4 linked regions of the Homo sapiens genome follow. The protein of the gene in region 2 interacts with the protein of the main gene of each other region in a biochemical or structural test. Each region holds a gene or a part of one and is shown on either strand. Other genes may lie near its edges.

Region 1 (8,200 bases), about 110 Mb from region 2:
GCACTTTGGGAGGCCGAGGCGGGCAGATCACGAGGTCAGGAGATCGACACCATCCTGACCAGCATGATGAAACCCCGTCTCTACTAAAATACAAAAAATTAGTCAGGTGTGGTGGTGAGTGCCTGTCGTTCCAGCTACTTGGGAGGCTGAGGCAGGGGAATCGCTTGAACCCAGGAGGCGGAGGTTGCAGTGAGCTGAGATCGTGCCACTGCACTCCAGCCTGGCGACAGAGCGAGACTCCATCTCAAAAAAACAAAAGGGTTTTATTTTTTGTGCACTAAAAATATGTATTCACCACACAGCATCTCTGGGAGAAAACCATCGATTACCAGAGCTGGCATAGTGTAGGATGTAAATATGGAAGCTCTGAGTCACACTGACAACCGTCTACATCTTGACTCCATCATTTCTTGGCTATGTGACCTCAGACATGTTCTTTACTAACCTCTCTGTGCCTCAGTTTTCTCATCTGTCAAAGGAGGCTAATAAAACTTCTTTCTCGGCTGGGCACGGTGGCTCACGCCTGTAATCCCAGCACTTTGGGAGGCCGAGGTGAGTGGATCACCTGAGGTCAGGAGTTCAAGACCAGCCTGGCCAACATGGTGAAACCCTGTCTGTACTAAAAATACAAAAATTAGCTGGGCATAATGGTGGGCACCTGTAATCCCAGCTACTCAGGAGGCTGAAGCAGGAGAATTGCTTGAGCCCAGGAGGCAGAGGTTGCAGTAAGCAGAGATCATGCCACTGCACTCCAGCTTGGAGCTGGAACAAGACTCTGTCTCAAAAAAAAAAAATTCTGCCCAGCACAGTTGGTGGTCAAAACTTTGGGAGCTCAGCCATGTATGGTGGCTCACACCTATAGTGCCAGCACTTTGGGAGGCCAAAACAGTAGGATCACTTGAAACCAGGAGTTCAAAACCAACCTGGGCAACAAAGCAAGATCCCGTCTGTACAAAAAAAAATTGTTTTAATTAACTGGGCATGGTGGTGTGCACTTGTAGTTTCAGCTATTTGGGTGGCTGAGGCAGGAAGCCTACTTGAGCCCAGGAGTTTGAGGCTACAGGGAGCTGCGATTGTGCTACTGCACTCCAGTCTGGGCAGCTGAGCAAGGTTTATCTTATCTCTAAAAACAAACAAAAAAACAAAAACAAAAAAGCTTTGGGAGCTCAAGAGAGAGTAAAGAAGCCATTTCTTTCTTTCTTTTTTTTTTTTTTTTTGAGATGGAGTCTTGCTCTGTCACCCAGGCTGGAGTGCATGGTGTGATCTCGGCTCGATGCAACCACCACCCCTGCCTCCCAGGTTCAAGCAATTCTCCCACCTCAGCCTCTCGAGTACCTGGGATTACAGGTGCGGGCTACCATGCCCAGCTAATTTTTGTATATTTAGTAGAGATGGTGTTTCGCCATGTTGGACAGGCTGGTCTCCAACTCCTGGCCTCAAGTGATCCACCCGCCTTGGCCTCCTAAAGTGCTGGGATTACAGGTGTGGGCCACTGCACCTGGCCCTGAGATTCTTCTTTTCAACCAACTCCATGTGATGCCAGGCTGCTGGCCTGGCATCAGTGATACAGCAGTATAGGATACTTAGTATAATCCCATTTCTGTAAAAACAAAATGGAACAAAATGAATATGTGCATATATGAAAAACAAAGCCAGAGAACGATCCCTAAGCTATAGTGGTTATCTCTAGGTGGGAGGATGACCAGAGGTTTTCAAATACTTGTGTAAAGTCTGGTTTTACAATAAGTTTCAATATTGTAATTAGGGGGGAAAAAGTAAAAATAATAAAAGCTGGCTGGGCATGGTGGCTCACAGCTATAATCCCAGCATTTTGGGAGGCTGAGGCGGACAGATCATGAGGTCAGGAGTTTGAGACCAGCCTGGCCAAGATGATGAAACCCCGTCTCTACTAAAAATACAAAAATTAGCTGGGCACAGTGGCGAGCACCTGTAATCCCAGCTACTCAGGAGGCTGAGGCAGGAGAATTCCTTGAACCAGGGAGGGAGAGGTTGCAGTGAGCTGAGATCACACCACTGCACTCTAACCTGAGCGACAGAGCAAGACTCTGTCTCAAAAAAAAAAAAAGAAAGAAATACAAAAAATTAGCTGGGCGTGGTGGTGCATGCCTGTAGTCCCAGCTACTTTGGAGGCTGAGGCAGGAGAATCACCTGAACTTGGGAGGCGGAGGTTGCAGTGAGCTGAGATCACGACACTGCACTCCAGCCTGGGAGACAGAGCGAGACTACGTCTCAAATAAATAAATAAATAGGCTGGGCACAGTGGCTCATTCCCGTAATCCCAACACTTTGGGAGGCTGAGGCAGGAGGATCACAAGGTCAAGAGATCGAGACCATCCCGGCCGACATGGTGAAACCCTATCTCTACTAAAAATACAAAAATTGGCCGGGCGCAGTGGTTCACACCTGTAATCCCAGCACTTTGGGAGGCAGAGGCAGGCAGATCACAAGGTCAGGAGATGGAAACCATCCTGGCTAACACGGTGAAACCCTATCTCTACTAAAAATACAAAACATTAGCCGGGCGTGGTGGCACGAGCCTGTAGTCCCAGCTACTTGGGAGGCTGAGGCAGGAGAATTGCTTGAACCCAGGAGGTGGAGGTTGCAGTGAGCCAAGATCGCACCACTGCACTCTAGCCTGGGTAACAGAGCGAGATTCCGTCTCAAAAAACAAACAAACAAACAAAAAATACAAAAATTAGCTAGGAGTGGTGGCACGTGCCTGTAGTCCCAGCTACTCGGGAGGCTGAGGCAGGAGAATCGCTTGAACCCAGGAGGCAGAGGTTGCAGTGAGCTGAGATCATGCCACTGCACTCCAGCCTGGCGACAGAGTGAGACTCCGTCTCAAAAATAAATAAAATAAATAAGTAAATAAATAATATTAAAAGCCCAGCCATGATGCCCTCTAGGCAAACATCTATAAACTGCACCCCCTCCTGGTGCCAGTCATCCAGGCTTCCATCTCTGCCTTCTCTTGTCCTCAGAGCATAATAACAGGTTGGCATGGAACAGCTGCCAGGTTCCATGCAAGTTGTGTGGCACTGATGCTCCAGCTGTCTGGTGAGCTGTTATCATTGGCATCCTCACAGCTGCAGCTTAATAAGGGCCCCCTGAGCACTAGGCCTGGGCTGTGCCCTACACAGGCATTTGATCTATTATTATCCCCATTATCCAGATTAGTTAACTGAGGTTCAGAGACGTGGAGGGACCTGGGTCACGCAGCTTGTTTAAGGCCCAGATTAGACTCCTAATCCACTCTCTGGTGCTACCAGGGAGAGGGCCTGCTTGTTCCCCATGCCTGCCTCGAAGATTCCTCCCCACAAGGGTCACTCTCTGATCACCATCTTCACAATAGCAACACCACCCTACCCCGCCCCTGCTTTCTTGCTCTGCAGGGCACGCCATCTAACAGGGCCATCGTTATTGCCCTATTTGCATATTGTCTGTCTTTTTCCACTGAATTGTCAGCCACATGTGGGTAAGGACTTTGTCCGTTTTGCTCACTGCTTTATCTCTGGAGTCTAGCATAGTACCTGGCTCAACAAATACGCATTAAATGGATGAGTAAGTGAACAGTCTCCAATTCACAGACCACTTTGTCAGCAGTGCCCCCACACTGTTCACAGCGCAGGGAAATGACTCACCGACTCCCCATGAGCACAGTGTAGGCTAGCCTTCCCTTCCTAGCCTCCACCGTGAATACTAATTAGGTTTCTTAAATGCAGAGATGGACGGCTGGGCTCAGGGCCCCATGGTCTGTCTGTGTGAAAGGGTACGCAGGGTAGGATTGTAGGAGCCCTGGATTTGAATCCCACTGTTTTACGCTGTTTTACCACCATCCTGATGGGTTGGAGCAAAGACTTCCACTCTCTAGGACAAGAGCTTCCAACTCTCCCAAGAAGGGCCCTCCAGGTGTCAGGGCCTCTGCACTTGCTGGTCATTCAGCCTGGCATGCTCTTCCCCTGATCTGCTTGCTGCTGGCTCCTTCTCATCATTTTGGTCTCTTCTCAAATGTCACTTCTGCAGAGAACACCCCCGACTCCTGCCAAGCCAATGTGAACTTTCCACACCCACAAAGATACCTTTTTTCACCCTGTTTATTTCCTCCATCCCTCTTACTATGAATTATTTTCATTTTTACTATTTCATTTATCTGCTTACTTATTTACTGTCTGTCTCCCCAGCTTGATGCAAGATCTATGAGGGCAGAGGCCTTGGCTGTCTTATTCGTTGCTGAATCTTCAGTGCCTAGGACAGGGCCTGGCTTCTAGCAGGTACCTAGTAAATATTTGTTGAATTCATGTTCCAACTTTCTCCTTCTAGAAACAAGGAAACTGAGGACCAAAGGCAGAAGAGGACATGTTGGAGATCAGAGTCAGGATCTAGGGATAGAAGCCAGCGAGATGAAGGGGAACTCATCTCGGAGTTCTGACCTCTGAGGTCAGGAGGCTGTGACCTCAGAGGAAGCCCATCTGCTCTCCAGGCCTGTTTCCTCATCGGTAAGATGGAGTGAAACATCCAGACCACTCTCCAAGAGGCCTGGTACTAGGAGTGAGACCCAACCCATTGACAAATATATTCTGCGCAGCATCCGCGCACCCCAGACACTGCTAAAGCACCCCAAAAGCCGCAGAAGGTGAAAACTACGACACCCATGATGCCCCGGACGGCGCCTGCGCACGGCGGCCGGCCCGCAGCGCCGCGGGCTCCCCCTAGCGGCGTCCGGGAGCGGTGCTCGCTCCGATCCCCGAGGGGCGGGGGCCCCGCGGCGCAGGCAGTCTGGGCGCGCGGCTGCAGCGGCGGAGCCGGAGTCGGAGCCGGGAGCGCTAGCGGCAGCCGGATCGCAGCCTGCGGGGCCCGCCGCAGCCATGGGCAACCGCGGCATGGAAGATCTCATCCCGCTGGTCAACCGGCTGCAAGACGCCTTCTCTGCCATCGGCCAGAACGCGGACCTCGACCTGCCGCAGATCGCTGTGGTGGGCGGCCAGAGCGCCGGCAAGAGCTCGGTGCTCGAGAATTTCGTAGGCAGGTAGGCGCGGCGCGCCCCCAGGCGCCGACCCCCGACCCCCGGGATCCCTGGAGTCCCCGCCCGGGGCACTGACGGCGCGGCGACCTCGCAGCCCCCGACGCTGCACCCGCGGCCGGCGCGCCCCCCACCCCCAGCCGGAGCGAGGAGGCCCTCCCCCCACCACGAGAGCCCCTCGGGGCAGCAGCGCCCCCCGCTAGTCTGCAAACGTCGTCAAGCCTCCGGCTACCGAATCACGCCCCCTCCTCCGTCCCATCCTTTAGGGCAGACAACGCTCTGCCAGAAGCCCCGGGCAAAGAGCTGCCCCCCGCCCCCAACATGGGCATGGAGAGAGCCCGCATTACTCAGCGTCTCCGTTGGGCTCCGGGAGTCCCTTGGAGCGGGCAGCACCCGGGGGCAGCGTCCCCCACACCGGGCTCAATGGGGGACATCCCCCTACCCCCATGGGAATTCCTGGGCCGTGGCAGAGGTCAGCCCCCGCATCCCAGTCCCTAGAAGAGGACGTAGTCCCGCGGGCATCGAGGACCGGGCACGGCCTCCCGCCAGCACACACACACCTCTGCGGCTCCCGCCGCCATCCGTGCGCAGCGCGGCGAGGGGGGAGGCGCGGGCTGCAGGATGAGGAAGGGAAGAGGGGAGGAGAAACCACTTCTTATCCTTTTCTGAGCAGCCGGCCCCTTGCTTCGCCACGGCCCCTGGGTGGGGGGCGCCTGTCAGTGTCGCCCTCCCCTTGGCCTGGCCAGAGGAATCGTGTTGGAGGGAGAGGCGGCAGAGGGCAGAGATGACTAAGACAGGGATGGCGGGAGGGGGGAGCCATTTGCAGAACCTAATCCCCCTCCCGCCTCTGATCCCACAAGGCGCTGAGAGGCCTAGGTGGCGGAGAGAGGAACAACCGCAAAGACAAAGGGTCGTGGGTTTAGCGGGGCAGGCAGGGTCGTGACCCGCAGGCTCCCCACAAACCCCCAAAGGGAGGCAGAAATAGTTTTTCTGGTGCTGAGGAGAGAGAAGAAAGATAGGAGCTCTCCAGGTACTGGAGGTGGGTTGGGGGGCTGGGCAGACTGGGGGATGAAGTGAGAGAGTTTACACTGACCCCGTCTTTCATCTCCCCCCCATCTTCTTCAGAAACTCTTGCTTTCTTCCAATGACCTTCAGGGCCAAAAAAGTGACTGGCACATGGGAGAGGGAGGCAGGGGCCCTTGTCCGCAGAGGTACAGCAGTTCTGTCCAAGCCAGGTTCTGCTGCAAAACCTCAGGCAAGTCACTTGCCCTCTCTGAGCCTCAGTGTCCCCATCTCTAACATGGACAGTGGGACTGGGTGGTTGTTCCTGCCCCTCAAATGTCCTGGGAAACCCATGCCAGCCCTAGAGGTGAGAGGGAGAGGGCCTGACTGGAGCCATGTGTGTGTGGGACGTTGGAAGGCCACCGTGGGGGCGGCCGTGCCCATCTGGTCAGCAGAGGGGAAGGCATCTGTCTCTCCAATGGCTCCTGCAGAGCCCCCCTTCTGATCACATGACCCCCGGAGCTGCAGAGACACAGGCAAGAGACACACCACGGGCCCCTTCCCCAAGGGCCAGCAGTCAGGGATATCCAGCAGTTTAGAATGGAGAAACCATATTCCTACCTCTCGTCCTTTGAATGTTGGCTGAACTCCTGCCCCATGCCAGGCTGCGTGCTTCAGGCTTGGGGTAGGGAGGGGACCAACTGGTGATTTCAGCCCGCATCTACTGAGCCCATCCCATGCATCCCCCTATGCTGAGTCCTTCATAGGCTCACAGGAGCTCCCAAGAGGCAGGTACCATGATGCCCATCCTACAGATGAGGAAACTGAGACCCTGGAGGTTAGATGCCTTGCCCAAGGTCACACATTCAGAAAGGGCAGCAGCTGTTAGACTCCAAAGCCCAATTCCTAATCTCGACGCTGCACATCCTCTGACAGCCGGGTCCTGCACCAGGCACAGGGACGTGTGGGTGGGTGGGCCTCCATTTCCCCATCTGCGGAATGGAAACGCTGACAGCCGCTGCCCTGCCTTCCTGAGAAGGTGACTGTGGGCTCCACCGAGTTCATGGGTGGAAAGGTGCTTTTGTAAACATGCGGGAGGGGGCGCTGATAGCCAATTAGGCTTGGGGACCTGCATGCCCAGCCCCTGCCTTCCTGGAGCCCATGACGCAGGGGCCATCCCTGACCACAGCAGATTTCATCGAGTACTTGCTTGTTGAGTGGTGGAGCAAGGTTTGGACCGTGCCCCAGGAGGCCTGGGCCCTCTGGCTGCCCTCTCCACCCCAATGCCCTTGGCCGTTGTCCCCACAGGAGGATGTGCAGGGTGTCCAGATGCAGGCCCAGGGCAGGGGAGGGGGCTTAGGTTGATGTGAAGGAGTAGGCAGAAAAGCATTCATGATCCTCTGAAAGCTAGTGAGAAGGCCAGGGAAACTGAGGCTCAGTGGGTTCCACTGTCTCAGCCTGCCAGCTCCCTCAAGGGCTCCTGACCTCTCCAACAGGGCTCAGTCCCCAGACTGGTGAGCATAGTAACAGCCATTCTGTCTCCTGGGGCTTCCCAGGAGCCAATCCCCAACAGAAAATGCTTCACAGGAAAATGCATCAGGGCTGCCCCAGGCCCACCCGGGCTTCTGGGTGCTCAGGAGGATCCTGCTGTCAACTCTGCAATGGAGGTAGCCTTGCAGCTGCCTGGGATGCTGCTAGAACTTGTCTGGGTCTATACTATTTCTTCACCCCCTTCCCTTTTACAGAAGGGAAAACTGAGGCCAATTCATTCAGTCATTTAGCAAACATTTGTGGAGGGTGCACGATGTCTCAGCACTGGGGATTCTATGGTGGAAAAGACCAAGACTCTGCACTGCAGAGGGAGAAACTCAGAAGACAACTGGAAAATGTGGTGAACGTCAGGGAGGGGAGTGGGGCTGCTCTCCCCAGGGAGGTCAGAGGTCTCCAGGAGGAGGTGGCATCTGAGATGAGAACCAAGGGATGAGAAGCTGTGTAACTTGCCAGGGGCGGGAGAGTTCCAGGCCAAGGGAAAGGTGCAAAGGCCCCGGGGTAGCAAAGAATTTGGTGCCTTTGAAGAACAGAAAGGAGACCCTGTAGCTGGTATTCAGCTAGCAAGGGGGAGACAGGACCTGAGAGATAGGCAGGGGCTAGATCTAC
Region 2 (7,455 bases):
ATCTAAATATCAAAAAGCCAAAGCACTGTAGAAAAAAATCTATAAAATAAAAAATATATTAAAAAGGCACATGGGCCAGGCATAGCGGCACACGCCTATAGTCCCACTACTCTGGAGGCTGAGGTGGGAGGATTGCTTGGGCTCAGAGGATTGAGGCTGTAGTGAGCTGTGATCGCCCCATTATACCCCAGCCTGGACGACAGTTTCAAAAGGCACATGGAACATACTGAGCCTTATGTATTAAGAAAAGACTTATTCAGCAAACTAGACTTAAAATTCATATGTGCATATGTATGTTGTGTATGTACATATGGACATATGCACATATACATACACTTACAAGCTCACAAATAGATTAATATACAGACACACAATTAATTAATTATAGGCACCAGTAATAGCAAAACTGCTAGCTTTTTAACCAAAAACCCACTTTTACATCCTGGGCACATAGCTAGGCTACACTTGCCTTCTTCCATTTCTCTTAGGTGTACCACAGAGGGGCCATGTTACAAGTTCCAGCCAACCAAACATAAACAGAAGGAACTATTCCTTCTCTTCATTTTCAGCTGTTGTATAACAAATTACCACAAATTTAGCAGCTTAAAACAATACCCATTTATTATCTTACAATTCTATAAATTAGAAGTCTGGGCCTGCTTAAGTGAGCTCCCTGTTGAGGGCCTCACAAGGCCAAAATGAAGGCGTTGGCTAGACTGGGCTCTTATCTGGAAGCTTGGGGGAAGAATTCCCTTCCTCTCAGATTCTTCAAGGCTGTGGGTCTAAGATCCCTATTTTCCCTGCTGATGGTCACCAAAGAGCTGATTTCTGCTCCTAGAGGCTGCCTGCATTACTACTCACATGGCCCCTCCCTCTTTAAACCAACAACAGCATGTCCAGTCCTGCTCATACTTCCAATCTCTCTGATTTTTCCTTCCACTACCAGCCAGAGAAAATATCCTGCTTTTAAAGGGCTCATGAGATTAGATTAAGTCCAATCATATAATCTCCCTTTTGTCTTACAAAGTTAAAAGTCTCAGGAATAACATCTTTTCAAATTGAACATTGCACCCACACTCAAAGGGGAGGAGAGTACACAAGAGCAAGAGTCACCAACAATCGTAGCATTCTGTCTACCATATTCCTCTTCCAGGCCTGGCTTATGAACATCTCCCATGCTTGTTCAAACATATTCTTTCCCTTTGGCAACCTTGAAAACCATATGTTACAGATGGCAGAACCGATCCAGGGTCATCCTGAGTCCCTGAAGCAAATAACGGGAAATATAAATGAAAAAGACTTTGAGCAACAAAGTACCATTAAGACTTCTTGGTTAAGCCAAAGTATCAGGCCCTCTTGTTAAGTTCAGAGTAACACAACCAAGTCTACTGGATGAAAATTAGGTCTAAAAAAGAATTTCCATCATAGAAATTGGCAAATGAAACTCACAAGAAAACACATCAGAAGCCTATTAAGTTGAAGTTTTTCTGGTTTTTTTTTTTTGGTTTTTGTTTTTTTGAGACAGTGACTTGCTCTACTGCTCAGGCTGGAGTGCAGTGGTGCAATCTGGCTCACTGCAACCTCTGCCTCCCAGGTTCAAGCAACTCTCCCAGGTTCAAGCTTCAGCCTCCCGAGTAGCTGGGACTACAGGCGTAGGCCACCATGCCTGGCTAATTTTTGTAGTTTTAGTAGAGAAGCGGCTTCACCATGTTGTCCAGGCTGGTCTTGAACCCCTGGCCTCAGGTGACCCGCCCACCTCGGCCTCCCAAAGTGCGGGGATTACAGGCATGAGCTACCGCACTTGGCCAGAAGCCTACTAAGTTTATGAAGAAATTTCATTACTCAAATCTACCATGGATAGTGAAAACCCTATGACTGTAAAACAATCCCCAAATTTAAATAAACAGGAAGTTGACTGAAAAGTTATGCCGTTCCCAAAGAGGGCAGATTTCCTCTAACCCTCCTTAGACCTGGCCAAATATATATAAGAAAGAACAAGAGTTCTTCCCAGATTGCAGAGCCAGATTGTAAAACCAAGGAACTTCCTCTACTGGCAGGCAGGGGATTTCACAATGCCCCCTGCAGGATGCCATCACTGTTATGGACAATAACTGTCCTGACTCCCCTTCTCTCCTTTCCTCACTGGAGTCATTCACTGTGGACATTATTTCCTGTACTTTTTGTTTTGTTTTGTTTTGTTTTTGAGACAGTCTCGCTCTGTCGCCCAGGCTGGAGTGCAACGGTGTGATCTTGGCTCACTGTAGCCTCCGCCTCCCAGGTGCAAGCAATTCTCCTGCCTCAGCCTCCTGAGTAGCCAGAAATACAGCTGTGCATCACCAAGCCTGGCTAATTTTCCCATTTTTAGTAGAGACGAGGTTTTGCCATGTTGGCCAAGCTGGTCTCAAACTCCTCAAGTGATCTGCCTGCCTCGACCTCCCAAAGTGCTGGGATTGCAGGCATGAGCCACCGCACCCAGCCGATTTCCTGTACGTTTAAAAGCATAGGCTATCTGCTTTATGTTTCTTTCAAGCATTATTCTGTGATACGGTTTGGCTGTGTCCCCACCCAAATCTCATCTTAAACTGTAGTTCCCACAATCCCCATGTGTCATGGGAGGGACCTGGTGGGAGGTAATTGAATCATAGGGGTGGTTACCGCCACACTGTTCTCGTGATAGTGAGTGAATTCTCACGAGAGCTGACGGTTTTATAAGGGGCTTTTACCCCACTTTGCTCTGTACTTCTCCTTGCTGCCGTCATGTGAAGGACATTTTTGATCCCCCTTCTGCCATGACTGTAAGTTTCCTGAGCCCTCCCTAGCCATGCAGAACTGTGAGTCAATTACACCTCTTTCCTTTATAAATTACCCAGTCTCGGGTATGCCTTTATTAGCAACATGAGAACAGACTAATACATAGCTTGATATTGAGATGTTTCTCAGCATTATAAAACTGCTTCCATTAGTATCTATGGGGAAAGGTTAGTTTGAATTATAAAAAAGATATTTCTATTTTTTATATATATCATAATTCAAAAAAAGGCAGAAAACACTGCCTAGAGGTCCTTCAGTGTCCTAAGTATCCAAGTAAACCTCCATGGAGCTGTGGGTTCTTCACGAGTATTACAGACAGCTTCTCCATATTCATTACTACTATATACAATTTGACCCAGGGGATGGCGGAGGGAGATTAGGGTAGAGCAACTACAACATCATATTTGGCATTTAGAAGTTGTACTAAATGTAAAACCTTTATAAATAGTGAAATTATTTCCTGAAGCATTTGTCATCAGCTAATGATTTAGTATAGCATGAAAATATTTTGTTGGTAGAATGCAAAAGACTTGGCAGGGTCTCACAATCATGGCATTTTAATAAGTATAGTTATAGCTCTCTTTAGTCTTTATTATCCATCGGATACCATGTACATCATTCTTAAGCTTTTAGGCTCCTTAAGTGATTATGGAAACAATAAATTCTAAACCAAAAACACTGAGAAGGGTTGTACTACAAAGTTTCAAAACTTCACATGTTGTCTCCTGCTGCCTCTTGCTGCCTCAACATTCATTCCCACATACGCTAACTGTGAACACCCCACCCAGGTAACCAGGTGCACAAGTTTGATAAGGTTGGCCCCTACCACAAGTTCACCTCTCTGTCTTCTTCTGACCACGACCTACCAATGCACCAATGCAACGCACTGTGAACTGCACTGAGCTGTGAACTGCACTGAGATCACTAGTAAAGGCACTTGCCCACAGTCCTTGCTCTCTCTGCTCCCACCTGTTTCCCACCTGCTTAGCTGATCCTGCTCTCAGAGCTGTCACCTCCACCCCACGTGTCCCCCCTCCTATCCTCCTGTACAGTGATTGTCATTCTAAGACATGTGAGTATAATAAACTCTGTTTTCTTGAGCCTCTCCTATGTCCCCTCTTGTGGCTACACCTCACTGAACATTACCTAAAAGAACACAGGACAAGGGTACGAAGGATTAAAAGAACAAAAAGAGAAAAAAGGAGGCCAAAAAATCCACTGACTTCTTACCTACTTAGCATCTCCCCTATCTGGCCTTAAATTGAGAAGAATTGCTCATCTCTAGAAAGCCCCATCAGGTATCCACCTTAAAGTTTGAAGCAGTTCTTAAACTCCATCTCCTCACCTAATTCTCATTATTCATTTGTCAGTGTGTCCTGCCCTTCTCTCGCCGCTGCCTCAAGCTACTCCTCTGAAGAAAGCCCTCGGGTTGCTTGATGCCCTGAGACTCTGTATGCAGCACAAGAGGCTTGGCAGAATGGAATCTGCTCTGCAAGCTTCAGCTCCCTTCCCCTGAATATTAAACCTCTCCCTTCCACAATGACATCTGTCTCAAAACAGTCACCATTTGCCCCAACCAAGTCTTGCCATTTTCTAGGGTACTTCTAATTAATTTGCAGGTTACTTTAAAATTTTCTAAGTAGACTGAAACCAAAATTCATATAAACTCAATTTAAAATATTAAAGAATCACTATGGGGAAAAAAGCTTGCAAAAATATAGCTGTTTCAACAACACAAACTTCAATCACGAGGACTCTCAGTCTACAGAGAAATCATTTTCAGTCACCACTTTCTTTTCATATACCCCACAGGCCCGTATCGTTGACTTCAAGCGCATTAACAACATTTTGTTTTACATGGTTCAAGTGATCCTTATTATGCAAGCATGGCACTCTCACAAGCATTACCTCATTCAATCCTGACACCTCTGGAAAGGTTTTTTACATTTGATTGCTGCTAAATTAATGCAGAGAAGGCTGCATTTTGATCAGGCATCCTAAAGCCCAGTAACAGAACTGTTGGAGTGATTATTGTAAGAAACATCCACTTTCTCCTGATGACATGATGAATTTATTTATTTATTTATTTGAAACAGAATCTCACTCTGTTGCCCAGGCTGGAGTGCAGTGGCACCATCTTGACTCACTGCAACCTCGGCCTCCTGGGTTCAGGCAATTCTCCTGCCTCAGCCTCCTGGGTAGGTGGGATTACAGGCACCTGCCACCTCGCCCAGCTAATCTTTTTGTATTTTTAGTAGAGACGAGGTTTCACTGCACTGGCAAAGCCGGTTTTGAACTCCTGACCTCAAGTGATCCGCCCGCCTTGGCCTCCCAAAGTGTTGGGATTACAGGAGTGAGCCACCACGCCCCACCCTATTTTTACTTTTCGAGGGGAGGAAGGGGCAGCAATTAGGAATTTATTTAAGAATCTGGTAACAGGCTAAGGGCATTCTCCCTCAGAAAAATGCATGTATAAAATGTTACTTATAATTTTATAAAATATATAGGCCCCTTGCAGCCTATTAGAGACTACTGGCTAAGAATGTGAAAGGGTACAGGTGTAGAAATCCTGGGTCAAGCAACAAGCCACAGCCAAGATTTTAAAGGCAGCAGAGAGTTGACTGCTTAGAGGCAATTAAGAAACTGAAAATCTCACTGAGATAAAGTCATAACTAATTAGATATTTAATCCAATACTTAGTAAGTTTAACATCTCACCAAATCAACAAATGCATGAAAAGACTTATGTAATGGTCTCCTGAGCAAAGCATCCATATAAAATACAGCATTCTGAAAGAGGAAATTAGGTAAAACAAAAAGACACAGAACACAAACATGATGAAATTTTCCCAGTTAAGGAATCTGAGTGTGACAAATAAACATATACCAGACTGTATCATAAAACCCAGCCTACCCAAATTAATTTTATCATTTAAAAAAATCAGAAAACACAATTTATAATAGGTATATTTCTGACTTAGTCTGTTCAGGCTACTAACAAAATATCTTAGACGGGGTAATTTATAAATAATAGAATTTATTTCTCACAGTTTGGGAGGCTAGCAGTCCAAGATGAAGGCACTAACAGATTTGTGCCTGGCTAGGGCCCACCCTTTGCTTCAAAGATGGTGCCTTGTTGCTAAACCCTCACACGGTGGAAGGGGACAGGGTGACCCCTTCAACTTCTTTTAAGAGAGCACTAATCCCATTCATGACTTAATCATGAGTGCCCTCATGACTTAGTCACCTCCTAAAGGCCCCATTTCTTAATACTGTCACATTGGCAGTCAAGCTTCAACATACGTATTTTAGAGGGACACATTCAGAACTTAGCAATATACTAACCAACTCATTAAAAAAGGAGAAAGTATATCTTTTTGATGCAATAGAAAGTTATATGTTATTTATAGGCTGAACTGTCCTCTTAGATGTTGAATCAAATATAGAATACTGTGGTTAATCCTTTTATGCAAATAACGACTGTTATGGATTGAACTGTGCCCCTCCCAAAATTCATATTAAAGTCCTAATTACAATAGCTCAGAATGCAACTTTATTTGGAAATAGGGGCATTACAGATGGTAATTATTTAAGATAAAATCATACTGGAGTAGGATGGGCTTGCCCAATCCTATATGACTGGGGTCCTTACAAAATGGGGAAATTTGGACACTGAGACACACACAGGGAGAATGTCATGTGAGCATGAAGGCAGAGACCAAGGTGATGTATCTACAAGCCAAGGAAGCCCAAAGATTCCCAACAAAGCACAAGAGCTAAGAAGGCAGCCTCGAATAGATCCTGTCTCATACCTTCAGAGAGCTCGTGGCCCTACTGGCACCTTGGTCTCAGACTTCAAGTGTGCTTGTCTCAAGAAGTGGGAAACAATGTATTTCTGTCGTTGAAACGACTCAGTTTGTAGTACTTTGTTACAGCAGCTCCAGCAAACTCATAAAATGACCTAATATATTTTACTTTATAATAGACTTTTACATATTGTAAAGCAAAATGTGTCCACATCATATGCATGATAGAGTGAATTTTTAAAAATACAGATTTTGTAGGAGCTTCATGTTCACTGGAAACAGCTATTTTTAACTAAGCTGCTGCCAGTTTAAAACAAGTGTAAAAAAACTGACATGACTTTTGTAAAATGAAATCTCAATATGAATAAAACTCACTAAAAGAGCAACACAAGATCATCTGCCCTTTATTACAGTAAAAAAAGAATACTTTATTCTAATTATACAGTAAATTATATCTTTATGAGCAATTAAGTAATGAAGTACATGAAAATAAGATGATCAATCAATTTTTGGTATCATTATATATTTTCATGCTGAAAGGATTTTCTTCTCTAATAAATTTTACTTGGCAAAAGCATTTTTTTACCTCCAAATTGTAAACATATTGAAAATAACTGTCAGCAACAAGGTAGAAATAACCAATTCTAATATAAGACAACAGTTGTGACACATTTAATCAGAAATTCCAAGTACAAACAATATACTGTTTTATTTATCATCGCTTACTAACACAAGCAAAAAAGCTCAATTCCATAGAAAGAAACGTTTGCGTGAACAGACTCCTTCCACTTATAAACCCAGGCTATAGGCCAGGTGCGGGGGCTCAGCCTGTAATCGAG
Region 3 (7,455 bases), on a different chromosome or scaffold from region 2:
CAAAGCATTTGTTTTATTTCCTTGTAAAAAGTTGTCTTCAAAGGTGATTTATAAGTGCCAAAAGAAAAACTAGTCTGACTTATTGGTAATGATATCTATTAGACAAAAGCAGTATTAATACAGCTTAATGAACCATCTTATCTGTGACTTTGCATCAACTAAATTCAGGCCTTTTCAAAACAAACTCATCCTCCAACAAGTCTTTTTAAAGATATGATACATTCTCTGACAACAATGACAAAAAGGGAAACTCAAAATATTCTCAGTAACAACAAAGTTATTGAAGTATGGGTATAGTCTCAGAAAAAAAAAACACCTGGATTAAGAGATTAATTGGATGAATAAATTTTGTGTATTTGTTTTTCTTTAAGTCATATTAGTTTCTAATTACATGTCCAACAAGAGAATAGGAAAGTCTACAAATAAATAATATGTCATTTTTACATGACATTACCATCTATCATCAATAAAACCTTTTAATAACTGTAATAAATGTGTGTTGAAGGATACAAACATACAAATTCTCTCCCTGGGCACCGCAAAAGCCATCACTTTTACAAATGGCTCATTAGGTTTTGGAGTGAAGCACACATAATCTATATAAATGGAACAGAACTAAGCTAACTGGCCAGCATGGAGTTATAACCAAGGTGACTATATAATTTATCATCCAAATTGGAATGCTTTTGAGAATATAGTGGGACACTATTACATAATTATGCTGGGACTGCCCAGGCCAAATAGGACTCTATTTATCAGCCAGTATCTTGATCATTAGTGCTATTGAGCTAAGCCAAGACAGACTAAGTGAAATTCATCATTATGTTTGTCATATGGAACTATCAAGGGTATTTTTCAGTACAGTTTACACCACACTCCCTGTAGTACCCAGTGAAGATTTCTTTTTTCTGCCAAGTATTTAAAAAAAAAAGTGTTCTCTCTGATAACTGATTTATTTACATTTTATAAAAATTTGGCTTACGAGAAGATAACTTTAAACATTTAAAACATAATTCCTAAAATAAAAAGCCCATTTTGTATGAACTAAGTAATTAGTGAGACACTGCTGAAAACCAAGTTAGTGGTCTTCATGACTAAATAAAACAGCTGCCTCACAATACGGAGGGAAAAAAATTGGAATGGGAATCACAGTGACAAAATTCATGAATGAGTGGCACAAAAGATCAAGATGTCCATAAAACAGGAATTCCAAAAGAAAAGAGGAAATGGAAAAATAACAGTTAAAGAATAATAGAAGAAAGATGATCCCAAGACCTCAGTATTCACCTTTACCCTTGTGATTGAATCACCACTATAAGAAGTTGAATCAGAAAAGGCATCAAAAACATTTTCTCAGATTCTCTCTCAGAAACATTTTCTCAGTATCCCAGAAACGGTCTCTTAGTTTCTCTCAGGTTCCTCTAATTATTTTTTGTTCCCATTTCTATGAATTAGAAATGAAGTCTGGCATAAATAATTTTAAAATGGAAAGGACTTTAATAATGCTAACAGCAACAAGGAAAGAAAACCCACAATTTTAAGTGAGTTGCTCACTTCTCAAAATTTCTGACATTTCTAGGCAGTTGAGAATCAATAAATTACATTTCTCTACCAGCCTACCATGTTACCTTGAAATTAAGGCTCTCGTTTATGATGGTTTTCCGAAGTTTTGCCAAAGCATCAGATTCCTCGGTGGCATTCACAAAGTGGTAATCTCGTATGGCAGGGAACCCTCGCTTATTCAGGAGTTCCTTGGTGATTTTACTCATGCAGGCTTTGCGTTGCTTCTCATCAGAAACATCCAAATGTGTGCCAACGAGAATCACAGGGGAAGAAGAAGCGCGAGCCTGGAGGGAAAGACACAAAACCCTCTTGTGTTTGCTTTCAAACTGGGCCTGCTCACATTCCTGTTGATATTTGCTTTCCGTGACATTCACTTGAATGGAAAAGAGAAACTAGCAGACTTCAGAAGAAGAAAAGAACAACTGTCCTTTTTTCCTTAAACCTAAGAAAAAAATGTAACCTTACGACATTTTAAAAAGTCATTTTTGGCCTTTCTTAACCCAATTCTTCACCCTTTTAGGTGGCATATATAACGGTAGTGGTATAGTTTTCCTTTCCCATCTTCATGCCTTAAGATGAGTTATTCACTCCTAAATAAAATAAGCATTTCATAAACCCACAAATTATATCAAATTAACGTCATATAGTTTATATTTTCTCTTCCTTATCTGTGAATTTAATCTTCTAAATTCGTTTTAAAGTCAACCAATTTGGAGTCTACAATGAAAGAATAAAAGCCACTCAAGCAAATATGACTGCCACTGTACTATTTGCTCACGTTGGCTAGCTGTAAAAAAGTTAATAAAAGAAACATTAAAAAATACCCAAATTACAAAACAAGCATGTATGCAGCCAATTACATGGTTAAATGTCCTGACACAAGCTTTTTAAGGACTTTATGCACAGAAGAGTTCATTGCAGCATCATGCAAGCAGCAGTTTAGTCTCCATTCTAAAAAGCCATAGTGTTTGAAGGAATAGCTGACAACAAGACAACAAAGGAAAAGATAGAAAAGCAACAAAAGGGAGATTCCAGATGTAACAGCATAATAATCTGGGACCACTTAAAGGATACAATCTGAAGAATTTCACACTAAATGGCCCCTGAGTACAAAGTTGATGAGATATATATATATAGATTGCTTTTCTTTAATATAGCTTATTTTAAATTAGAAAAATTTAGATTTCATTTAAGAAATAATATAATTAAAAAACAGTTGAACATATATATTTTCAAGTTTTACAGCATAAAAGAGTTTCAGGTTACCAATAACATTCACCAACATGGAACATACAATTTTCATGTTATGACTTCATTACTCGGAAAGTTTCCCAATTCAAAATTTTAGTGCTTCTTTTAAGAAAGTATTTAAAGAGACTGAAGCAATTGTTTGCCCAAAATAAATTAACTTACACACACACACACACACGCACACAGACACATGAATTATTTTCTATTTTCAAATGATCAGAACAAATCACCTTTATATTGAAGAGCCAAGGCTTCATGGCATCAACTTCAGCCTGTCCCTTGCTGAGGTCATAGACAGCAAGGTACAATGCTCGCTGCGTCATAAAATGGGGATGAGTACTATAGAATTCCTCACGACCTAAATAAAGATTAGAGACAAATTTTTTTAATCTTTCAAACGACAGGCAAGAATCCTTTTTTAAAAAAAAATCTGGGAGAATAATACTATTTATTATTTAGCATACTAATAAGAGAAAAACAACAGACCATGTTTAGAGAACTATTCTGGGTTTTTACTAGGATTGACCACTTTTAGCATATTTGTCAGCAACCGATCAAAGTACCTAGCACCAAATTGTTCCTAACATATCCCTCCATGTTCTTCTCCATTCTGGAGGCAAGGGTAAAATTAGGAGAAATGAAGGGCTTTGGAATAATTCCATACAGTCTACCAGGTTTCTGGATATTAGAACAGAAAGCTCAGTTTTTGAATCCCTGTTCCAAACAAATGGTAAAAGTGAATTTTAAAATTCTATAGAAAGAAATACCTGCAAAATCCCACACATTTAGGACGAGATCTCTCTTTCTTTTGTCTCTTATTTGGATAGGCCAGTCTTTCACATCTATGCCAACTGTGGCACTTTGCATTCCAAGATCTGATTTCTTGGTTTTCATTAATTGCTGCAATAAGGTGGTTTTACCACTCCCAGTATTTCCCACAATCATAAGTTTCATTCGGTTATAAGGCACAGCCTTTTTTAATCGCTGTTGAAGAAACCTAGTATTTGAAAGATAAAAATAAAATAATAAACTGCTTAAAAGTATACTTGAGATTTAGGTGAGTTCTTTTACATGTCACACTATTCTAAAATATAGTATCCAGAAGAGTGCATATCTCATATAACTAATAATGTACATGTCTTTCAGAGTACTGTTAATGCATATATTTTGCTAGAGATTTTAGGGTAGTTGATAATGTTTGGTAAAATCACCAAAGAAAACATGTTACACTATCACCAGAAATAATCAAAAGGCCAAAATATGTTTGCAATACTAATTAGAATACGATATGCAATATATATATACCTCTATATATACACACATATACATACATGTATACATATTCTAATGTCTTTAAATAGTATGAAAAACCCTACAAATTATACGCCAGGTGCGGTGGCTCGCACCTGTAATCCCTGCATTTTGGGAGGCCGAGGTGGGCGGATCATGAGGTCAGGAGTTTGAGACCAGCCTGGCCAATATAGTGAAACCCCGTCTCTATTAAAAATCCAAAAAGTAGCCGGGAACAGTGGCAGGTGCCTGTAATTCCAGCTACTTGGGAGGTTGAGGCAGGAGAATCGCCTGAAGCCAAGAGGCAGAGGTTGCAGTGAGCCAAGATCAGGCCACTGCACTCCAGCCTGGGTGACAAGAGTGAAACTCAGTCTCAAAAAAAAAAAAAAAAAGAAAAGAAAAGAAAAGAAAAACCCTATAAATTATAAAGTTCAAAATTTCACAAAGTCCATATGACATAGAAACAAGGTAGAGATATATGTATACTGTTAAAGCTTGATAATAGGGTCATATTAGTTACATTATATATGTGTGTGTATATATTCATATATGGTATATATGATGTATAGCTATATATTCATGTATATCACATATGCATATAATAGTATATATGGATAGTGAGATCACATAACATCATAAATAAATATAAACTATTATACTATCAGCAGATGTTAGCTTTCATTCCTAATGATCTTAATGTAAAACCTGAATGAAATAGAAGTGTTTAGGTAGCTAAAAAACCACCTTTAAACTAATAGTAGAGTCAAAGTGTTATCAAAAATATAATGGATAGAGAAAGATATATTTTGAAATATGTTAAAATGTTGCCACAGTTTCAAATTAGAGAAAAAGACTAAATCATAAGTGAATTTTACATCAGAGTAGTGATCAATTCATTCCTGTAACTAATAAGAATCTGACCAACATTCCTGATGATATGACCAAAAAGCAACATTACCTTTCTTGATTTATTTCTTAAGAATGCACCACTATTTGAAAAAATGTCTTTCTTCAAAAAGCAAATGATGCCTACAATTTCTAATCTGCTCTAGGTCTTTCTGTCTTTTCTGAAAATGTTAAACATGTTTAAAAATATTTAGTTATATATTAAATTAAATATTAAATATTAAAAATATTTAGTTAGATAATACAGTATAATACACTGAAAGCTAGTTCTACTAAATGTTTAGTAAGAACTGAACCAATTTTTATATGACCATCTTTTCCAGTTTCAAGAGAGAAAAATAATTGGGTAGGATGAAGGGTAGCCACAATTAGCACAAAAGATAACAAACTCCTTTAAAATGAAATCAAGCTCAGGAGTTCAGAAAACAAAATCCTTCCTCATAAAAACAGATGAAGTTAAATATAAATTTAAGAGATTTTAGGCAGAAGAGAATGAGTAAGTATAAATCACTGGTAATTAAACAACTATTAATTGTATGCCAGGCACTGTGTTGGGTGCCAAGATTTGAATAGTGAGTGAACACAGCCATGGTCTCTGCCTTGGTGGATATTACAGTCAAGTTGAGAGGTGATGACAGAGCTGAGGTCTGCAACGTTAATACAGTAACTGTGGAAAAGGGAGCAAAGGATTTTATGAGAAAGTAATAAGACCGATGTGCTGAAAGGGAACAAAAAGGAGGATAAAATCCATTACCAAAGATATTTAAAGTGCTTAAAGTGTAAAGACCAGAAACAGTGATACTTGAGAAGTTTTGGTGCTTTCAAAACTGATCAAGGTGAGTAGATTACTCATCCTAATGGGCAAAATAGAAGTTAGTAATTTCACATGATGTCAGTAGCTATAATGCTTTAAGATGTAAGAGGCATATGTTAACTAGTTGCTATATGAAATACAGTGTGAGAAGTTATTATACTGTGCTGTATTTCTTTAGATTGTGTAATTGGTAACCAGAGACCAAATAGCAATACTTATTTTCTTTTAGAGTCTACTCCACTGAAAAGAAACAGAAGGAGGAGAAGCCGCTCTCAACATTAGTCTGGCTAAGAAGAATGAGAAATCTCTACAGTGGCACCACAGAAACACATTCATTAAATGAAAGGCAAATGACACACAGCATATTAATGCCAAATATTACTATTTATTTTTCCCTAAATAGTAACAATATATGTCCATCAAAGTCACAGAGAGTAGAAAATCTGAAATAAATTTAGTAAAACCAAATAGAAAAAAATTATCTAACCTTATGATGTCTTTGGCTTTACATCCTATATGTTTAAAATCAAAGTTAAGATGCAGTTCATCCAAAGGAAGATCCCATATTTTGCTTAATTTCCCCATTTCATTGGGAAAGGATCTTAGTTCCAAGTTGTAACTGACATCCAGAGATGTCAGATTTTCAAGACAGCCAATCTCAGGAGGAATCTTAATGGGAAAAAAAAGGGCAAAACCTGTTGGTGGGAAGGAAGAAATGTGCTCTGCCAAAAAACGTGATAAGAAACAAGAAAGGCTCACAGATTCCATCAGCAGCTTGCACAACCTTTCAACAGAGTTTTAAAACTTTCCAAAGGTTTGTCATAAGTTGTCAGTATGTGTTTAAAAACATAAAAACTTACATATAAAAACTTACTCCCAAACAATCTATGTCACTCATCTGTAATATTAAAAAACCCAATCTCCTTTGGTAACATACTTCATCTCTTCAAGACATTGAAAGTAAGGAAGTTCTTACCACAAAATGGATTTGGTTATCCATTATCTGTGACTTCATTCTGCTCCTTCAGTAAAGGCAAGAAGACCTAGTCACTACAAACCTGCATGCAATTTAGTGTTCTCAAAGTACAGCTACATGCTTATACTTTAGGTGGCATCCTAATTGGAGTAATTTCTTTTCTGTTCCAAATTTTTAAGCAATATATACTATATTTATAATAGAAAACACTCATTTGCTGGCAAAAAATCAGGTAGCAAAATATATGCACAGTTTTGCTGAACCTCACAGTGTCAGACACTTAATTCTTTTGGTTTTTGTAGGCAATACGCTAGAACTTGAAAAATAATATTTTCTGAGACAAACAAATTATCAATTTCAGATTTACAACAGAGAGAATGGAGCAAAACAAAAAAGGTTGATCCATTAGGGTGATAGCATGGTGGCGGAATGCAGAAATTTAAGAATGTACCAAGGAAAGCTGAAAAACAAGTAATACAGTATACAGGCCAGTAACAACTTGAGAAAAATGGTTTATTTAAGAGTCTGTTAACAGATTGGACAGAGATTTGGTGATACAATGACACACAGCATCACATTCATCTATAATTATGTATATATTCATATAATCCTTTAAAAGTATATCACAAAAGTAATTTTTTGAGGAAATTATGCT
Region 4 (7,455 bases), on a different chromosome or scaffold from region 2:
CTGCTGTGGCCTGGAAGCTCTCCAGGCAGTAAGCTGGAGCATTCATAAAACCCACCTCATTTGTTTCCCTTCTCTCAGGGGTCAGCATCTTGTGCTGCCTTTTGTTCAAGGTCTGCAAATCATTCCATGTATTTTGTTCATTTTGTTGTTGTTACTTAAGGTAGGAGGGTAAATCTAGTTCCTGTTACTCCACTATGGTCAGAAGCTCCCGTTATAGTCCTGAGTTACGTATATTTTATAGGACAAGTTAGAACATCTGATAGACCTGAGATGATGTAATAAAAAGCCACAGAGTTTTTACTATTCAGTGAGAGTGGAAGTTCTGCCTTTCCTTTTTATTTCCTCATAGCAAAGTTAAGTGGTGAAGAAATGAAAGCACTTAAGAACTAACTACTGGTTTGACCCTAGGTCAATCCTACTACCAACCCAGAATAAAAAAGTTTGGTTGATTTTCTTTTTAAAGAGTTGACATTTAAGTTACTTTCTATTAAATACGTACATTCCTCAGACTACAGGGGCACATAAAAAAAGAAAGAAAATAAATATGCACCTTCCAAAGGTATTTATAAAAAGAAAATGAATTTTTGCAACCCTAACATAAAGTGATATATAACAAGTCTAAATTTCATGATTTCTCTGCTGAAAAAGTCAACTATAAAAAGTCACTTCTTCCCTCAACTTGCAAATTTTTCTTTAAAAGAGACAGGACACTGCAACTTATCTAAAGGGCAATCATGTTGACAGCGTTTGGCAATTAAAAAAAAAAAACAAACTACACACACTGTTTGGCATTACCACCTACTATATTTATCCAAAAGTCTAGAACCTGACATTTAACTTGGCCCAGGAAAGAAACTTTGTTTTTAATGACTTTACTGTAAATTAAACCATACTTTCTCCTCTAATATATTAATATGTTAATAGTTTGTAGGGAAAAACACAAGTGTACAGTTCCCTCATTAGAAAATGCTACCAATTACACTCTTAACCTTAACGCCTTCCCTTATTTTTACACTTCATTCCCCACCCCTGAAAATAATAGCCACACAATATATGGTAATACAATAGCCTCACAACAGCACAAACAATAATTACAGTAAAAAAAAATTAAATGGTAGGACTATGTCATTGGGGCAGTTATCTTTCCAATCCTCAGTTTCCAAATCTCTGAAATGTGGATAAAAGCACAATCTGAACTGAATGAAATAAAGTGTGTCAAATGCCACATCTCCTGAACTGTGTGCTCAGATGCCCCACGGCACTACAGCAAACTCCCAGGGAAGCTGCATATTTTAAACAGAAGGAAACACTGAGATTCTCAACACATGCTGGAAACCAGCCAAACTATTAACCTGAGGTGCTTGAGTTGTCATATTAGATTGCAGTGCATTCCTTGGATGATATATATTAGTGAAACCGGGTTTTTGCTGGTTGCTGTGATAAAAGCAAGTGTCACTTGAAAATCAATGTGGAACAGGAAATGAGGACGGCAGTGTACTCTGTTCCAAGGTTTGAAAAGCTATGCAGGCTGGGAGCAGTGGCTCACGCCCGTAATCCCAGCACTTTGGAAGGCCATGGTGGGCAGATCACCTGAGGTCAGGAGTTCGAGACCAGCCTGGCCAACATGGTGAAACCCCGTCTCTACTAAAAATACAAACATTAGCCAGGTGTGGTAGCGGGTGCCTGCAATCCCAGCTACTTGAGAGGCTGAGGCAGGAGAATTGCTTGAACCCGTAGGCAGAGGTTGCAGTGAGCCGAGACCGTGCCATTGCACTCCAACCTGGGTGACAAGAGTAAAACTCCATCTTAAAAAAAAAAAAAAAGAAAGAAAAAGAAAAGCTATTTAGTGCTCAGTGCTCAACAAGCACACACATCTCATTAGTAAATTGTGGTTACTTATGAAGAAAATAAATGTTCTATTTTTTCTGCATTTTTTTTTTTGAACAGCTACAAAAGCTGTTGGGACACAAATATTTTTTGGACCTAACTATTTAATAAACAGAACTATTAAGTATTGTTTGTGGCCTAGGGGTGTTGTGAAAAACTTAACGAGGCCAGGCACAGTGGCTCACACCTGTAATCCCAGGACTTTGGAAGGCCGAGGTGGGCAGATCACCTGAGGTCAGGAGCTCAAGACCAGCCTGACCAACATGGAGAAACCCCGTCTCTACTAAAAATACAAAATTAGCTGGGCGTGGTGCCACATGCCTGTAATCCCAGCTACTTGGGAGGCTGAGGCAGGAGAACTGCTTGAACCCGGGAGGCAGAGGTTGCAGTGAGCCGAGATCGCACCATTGCACTCCAGCTTGGGCAACAAGAGCGAAACTCTCCCTCTCAAAAACAAAAACAAAAACAAAAACAACTTAATGAGATAATAAGGTCACCATAAAACAATGAAGTTTAAAAACCTCTGGCTTAATGTTGTGACTGGCAGAATAAGCTTCCAGTAAGTGGTAGCCATTATCATTTCACTACGATTAGTCCTTTACGCAGTTTTATAGAAAAGAGAGGATATTTCATATTCTGTAATAAAGATCTCAGAATATCATCCTATAGTATTATGACTTATATTGAGTATTATATATAGTATTATGACTTATGTTGTAAGAAAAAATTAGGTAGACAAAGAATCTCATAAGGACAACTTGGAGGAAAACCAGGTGCAGTGATATGGCCTTGCTATTTATAAAATGCATGATTTGAGTCCTAATCTGACTCAAATTATGCTACTTGAAAAGCCTGAAAGTAATCTTACCACTAGACAGATAAAAGCAATTCATCCTTACTCCCATGCTAGCATGTAATATGGAAAAGAGCAAAAGCTTTAATTTTAAGAGTTAGGAATCCATGGCGCCACCTCACCTCCCCATCTTTTACGTAGAGGTCCATAACTTCTGTTTTTAGAGTTATCCTCCATTTCCCATATGTTGACCTTTTCTTTACTCCATCTTCTATTTAGGATATAATTATGAAATGAATCATTCACTTTATTGAAGCCTGAGATGGGCTGTAAAATATTGAGATTGTGAATTTAATGCATGTATGTCAGACTGACAGCTTGTCCTTCTCCTGTGACAGTCTTTGTGTATGTGTGTGTAAACTGGAGAAAGACTAAGAACAATGAATTGTACACAAAGCTGAGAGACATCTTTTATCTCTTAATAAATTGTTTCCAGGAAAAAAATATGTACCTGTTTATAACTTGCTAACCATCACACAAGCTGCTTAAACTGGTAGATGCAGCAAACTAGTCACAGAGCTCACCTGCTACACTGAACCACTATTCCAAAGACATCAAATTGCAATTTAATCAAACACTTGCTGTACAAATACTTTTCAAAACTGAGTAATGCTAAAAATGGGTACACTCCTAAAAAACATATTAACTGTTATCTAAGGGTAAGAACTTTTTAGAAAGTGTTTTAAATAAATCAATGCAACAGAAGAAATAATAATGAAATTATTTTCTATTTTAAACAGGTAATTTTGAAGGCCAGGCGTGGTGGCTCACGCCTATAATCTCAGCACTTTGGGAAGCTGAGGTGGGTGGATCACAAGGTCAGGAGTTTGAGACCAGCCTGGCCAACATGGTGAAACCCTGTCTCTACTAAAAATAAGGAAAAATTAGCTAGGTGTGGTGGGGGGCGCCTGTGGTCCCAGCTACTCAGGAGGCTGAGGCAGGAGAACTCCTTGAACCCAGGAGGCGGAGGCTGTAGTGAGTCAAGATTGCACCACTGCACTCCAACTTGGGTGACAGAGCAAGACTCCATCTTGGAAAAAAAAAAAAAGTAATTTTGAAACAAATTAATAGTACTTATAGAAATAATAAGTAACATTTATCATAGACATTTCAAATTGGCATTTCAGAAGAACCTTAATAATGTGGTTAACAGTTATTTCCAATAGGATTTGTCAATAACAAATCTAAATAATGTGTAATATACATCTTTTATATCAGCAGTTCAGTCAGATAACAATTCTCAAAAACATAGGAAATAGGCCAGGTGCAGTGACTTATGCCTGTAATCCCAGCACTTTGGGAGGCCAAGGCGGGCGGATCACCTGAGGTCGGGAGTTCAAGACCAGCCTGACCAACATGGAGAAACCCTGTCTCTACTAAAAATACAAAATTAGCTAGGTATGATGGCGCATGCCTGTAATCCCAGCTACTTGGGAGGCTGATGCGGGAAAATCACTTGAACTTGGGAAGGGGAGGTTGCAGTGAGCCGAGATCGTGCCATTGCACTCTAGCCTGGGCAACAAGAATGAAACTCCATCTCAAAGAAAAAAAAAAAAAAAAATATATATATATATATATATATATATAATGTATGCATGTATGTATATGAAATAAGTTTTATAGGGCTGGGCTTGGTGGCTCACGCCTATAATCCCAGCACTTTGGGAGGCCAAGGCAGGTGGATCACTTGAGTTCACGAGTTCAGATCAGCCTGGCCAACATGGTGAAGCCCCATCTCTACTAAAAATACAAAAATTAGCTGGGCATGTTGGTGTGCGCCTGTAGTCCCAGCTACTCAGGAAGCTGAGGCACGAGAATCACTTGAACCCAGGAGGCGGAGGTTGCAGTGCACGGAGATCATACCACTGCACTCCAGCCTCAGTGACAGAACAAGACTCTGCTCAAAAAACAACAACAAAAATTTACGGAAAAATATCTCTTATTTTCAAACATAATAACTGCATGTTTATCAACTTTGTAATCTAGGTTAGTCTTTCCCTTGCTGTCATTCATTTAATAATCACATTTTCTTCAAGTATGAGTAAAACACTACACTAAGCACTAAGACTGCAAATATTACTAAGACACACAGGCCTTTTCCTCAAGGAGTGCGGCATCCAGACACAGAACCTGAGCAGAATTCCATATGATATGAAGGCACTATACTCAAAGTGCTACAAGAGTATTAGCACTTGGTTCAGCCTGACAGTTTCAAGAAAACTACTTAGTAGCCCCATAAAAGACAACAGCACCAAAATTCTGGAAACATGGTTATTTTGGATAAAATCTGCAAGCCAAAAAAAAGCAATCCCCTAATCTATCATAGAAAGGCCTAAATACACTTTGCTCAGAAATGAGCATCACAATCTAATTATATCAGAATATCCAGGGGGCTAGAGCCCAGACAGTAGTATTTGTAAAAGCTGCCCAGGTGACTGTAACACTGATAATGTCATAACATCATGACTGATTTAAGCTTAGAATCCTATCGACATAAAGACAGAGTCTTGAGGCTGCATTAGTGAACACGTGGGTCCCTAAGGGGATCCATTGTATGAGACTATTTTCATTGTATTTTTACTTGCAATCTTTTGGTATGTGCTAATAGTATGAAAGACAAAATTTCATGTTGGGTATCTCATGGCACTTCAGCAAAGGCCAAGAAAATTAAGTGATTGCTAATCCTCAACACTGTATGCTGACTAAAATGTCTGTTTAAAATTTACTTTTTAAAGTAAAGCCAGGGCAAGTAGAGACTTGAAATTAGGAACTTTGTGTACATAAAGACCAAGTCCTGCTAAGGTCACTTCCACCACCCCTTTCCAAGAAAAACACCTACATATGAGCATTTAGACAACAACAAAACCAGCACATAAGAAGTATGCGTCTTGGCTGCGAGCAGTGGCTCACGCCTGTAATCCCAATACTTTGGGAGCCTGAGGCAGGTGGAAACCATGAACCCAGGAGTCTGAGATCAGCAGGGCAACATGAGGAAGCCCCCTATCTACAAAAAAATACGAAAAAAATTATCTGGGCATAGTCGTGTGCGCCTGTAGTCCCAGCTACTCAGGAGGCTGAGGCAGGAGGATCAATTGAGCCCGGGAGTTCCAGGGAGTTCAATTACAGTGAGCTGTGATCATGCCACTGCACTCCAGCCTGGGTGACAGAACAAGACCATGTCTCAAAAAATAAAAGCAAAAAAGAAGTATGCACCTTGTGATACAGAGTAAGTTCTAGAGAAATGAAGAGAAGGTAGAGATAAAGGTGAGCTGGAGTGGTTGGGGCAGAGTCTTATGAAGGAAGAAGACCTGAGTAGGACCTCGGTGGGACTGACAGGCTCAGATTAGAGAAGCAGCACTCTAGCTGTCTTGGAGGAAGAAGGTGTAAAAAGCAACAGTATGATGAAGCTGAAAAAAGCATGGTGCTTGGGAAGGCACTGAGGAAACACCAGATCTCCTTAAAGGAGATCAACACTGGACAAATGACAGGTTGAGGAGTACAAACTTAATCTTGGTGAAAAACAGGGTTACACTTTGCTTTAATATAAAAAATGATTTTAGGGCTGGGCGCGGTGGCTCACGCCTGTAATCCCAGCACTTTGGGAGGCTGAGGCAGGCGAATCACCTGAGGTCAGGAGTTCAAGACCAGCCTGGCCAACATGATGAAACCCTGTCTCTACTAAAAATACAAAAATTAGCAAGGCGTGGTGGCACACACCTATAATTCCAGCTACTTGGGAGGCCGAGGCAGGAGAACCACTTGAACCCAGGAGGTGGAGGTTGCAGTGAGCCGAGATCATGCCACTGCACTCCAGCCTGGGCAACAGAGTGAGACCCTGTCTCAAAAAACAAACAAGCAAACAAACAAAGAAAAAACATGATTTTAGAAGATTCTTCAGGTAGATGAATATGCAGAATGCACTGAAATTCAGGGAGCTGGGATTATTGAAGATGAAGAGAACACATTGATATTTTCCAAGCACAGCTTCTGAATACAATAGGCATTTTTAAAGTGTGAAGATTTTAAGTGAACACTGTACAGCACAATACAAACCTTGGTATCACTCCAAAATGAAGGCCAAATTAATTTTAAAAGTCAAATGACTTAAGAAGGTTTGTTAGCTCTTAAATATTAATATGTTAAGTATTACTGTAAAGCTTATAGTAGGAAAGATAATGACATTCCAAGAGATTAGACATCCATTTATGTTAGCTTTACAGAAAGAGTCAATATTCCAACATTTTTTTTCTGAATTGCTCACATAGTCTAAATCTAATGAAAATAGAATAGCTTAGACAATATTTTAATATTCTTTCTCCTTAGAATGCACATTAATGCCAAAATAAATGTTTTAGGGCCTTTTGGTAAAAACAAACCATTATTTGGCATAAAAGACGGCTGCTGGAGGTTTTGGAAATATTATTATTCTTAGGTTTCCTAACCTTGGAGTAAAGTGTAGCAATAATTCTAAAAACTATAAGTAATACACAGTTTGTAGCTGAACATTTGACTTGCTATTATGAGTAATCATAATTAAAGAAACATTTAGAATTTATACAAGATTAGTAAGTCAGGTAACGTCACCAAAAAACACAAGCAGCTGAAAAATGCTTCCCATACAAAAACAAACATTCGCCCCACCCAACCCCCACAATATTTTAATTCAGAATTCATCAGTATAAGAATTCCACTTGTAGTAAAAAATATATGCAATG

The links.
Region 1: the proteins of SH3GL2 (region 2) and DNM1 form a complex in vitro, tested with the Homo sapiens proteins (2 studies listed by BioGRID and IntAct, with this or other methods).
Region 3: of the proteins of SH3GL2 (region 2) and LRRK2, one has a biochemical effect on the other in vitro, tested with the Homo sapiens proteins (2 studies listed by BioGRID and IntAct).
Region 4: the proteins of SH3GL2 (region 2) and SYNJ1 form a complex in vitro, tested with the Homo sapiens proteins (2 studies listed by BioGRID and IntAct, with this or other methods).

Annotation. Positions count from the first base shown.
Region 1 is NC_000009.12:128,198,585-128,206,784, forward strand, and holds the start of DNM1 (dynamin-1), read left to right. Parts: upstream 1-4,794; 5' UTR 4,795-4,886; coding exon 4,887-5,047; intron 5,048-5,601; exon of another isoform or gene 5,602-5,638; intron 5,639-8,200. UniProt on the Homo sapiens protein: Catalyzes the hydrolysis of GTP and utilizes this energy to mediate vesicle scission and participates in many forms of endocytosis, such as clathrin-mediated endocytosis or synaptic vesicle endocytosis as well as rapid endocytosis (RE).
Region 2 is NC_000009.12:17,581,948-17,589,402, reverse strand, and holds part of SH3GL2 (endophilin-A1), read right to left. Parts: intron 1-7,455. UniProt on the Homo sapiens protein: Implicated in synaptic vesicle endocytosis. May recruit other proteins to membranes with high curvature. Required for BDNF-dependent dendrite outgrowth.
Region 3 is NC_000012.12:40,304,823-40,312,277, reverse strand, and holds part of LRRK2 (leucine-rich repeat serine/threonine-protein kinase 2), read right to left. Parts: intron 6,494-7,455; coding exon 6,312-6,493; intron 3,812-6,311; coding exon 3,582-3,811; intron 3,173-3,581; coding exon 3,045-3,172; intron 1,848-3,044; coding exon 1,629-1,847; intron 1-1,628. UniProt on the Homo sapiens protein: Serine/threonine-protein kinase which phosphorylates a broad range of proteins involved in multiple processes such as neuronal plasticity, innate immunity, autophagy, and vesicle trafficking.
Region 4 is NC_000021.9:32,717,906-32,725,360, forward strand, and holds part of SYNJ1 (synaptojanin-1), read right to left. Parts: intron 1-7,455. UniProt on the Homo sapiens protein: Phosphatase that acts on various phosphoinositides, including phosphatidylinositol 4-phosphate, phosphatidylinositol (4,5)-bisphosphate and phosphatidylinositol (3,4,5)-trisphosphate. Has a role in clathrin-mediated endocytosis.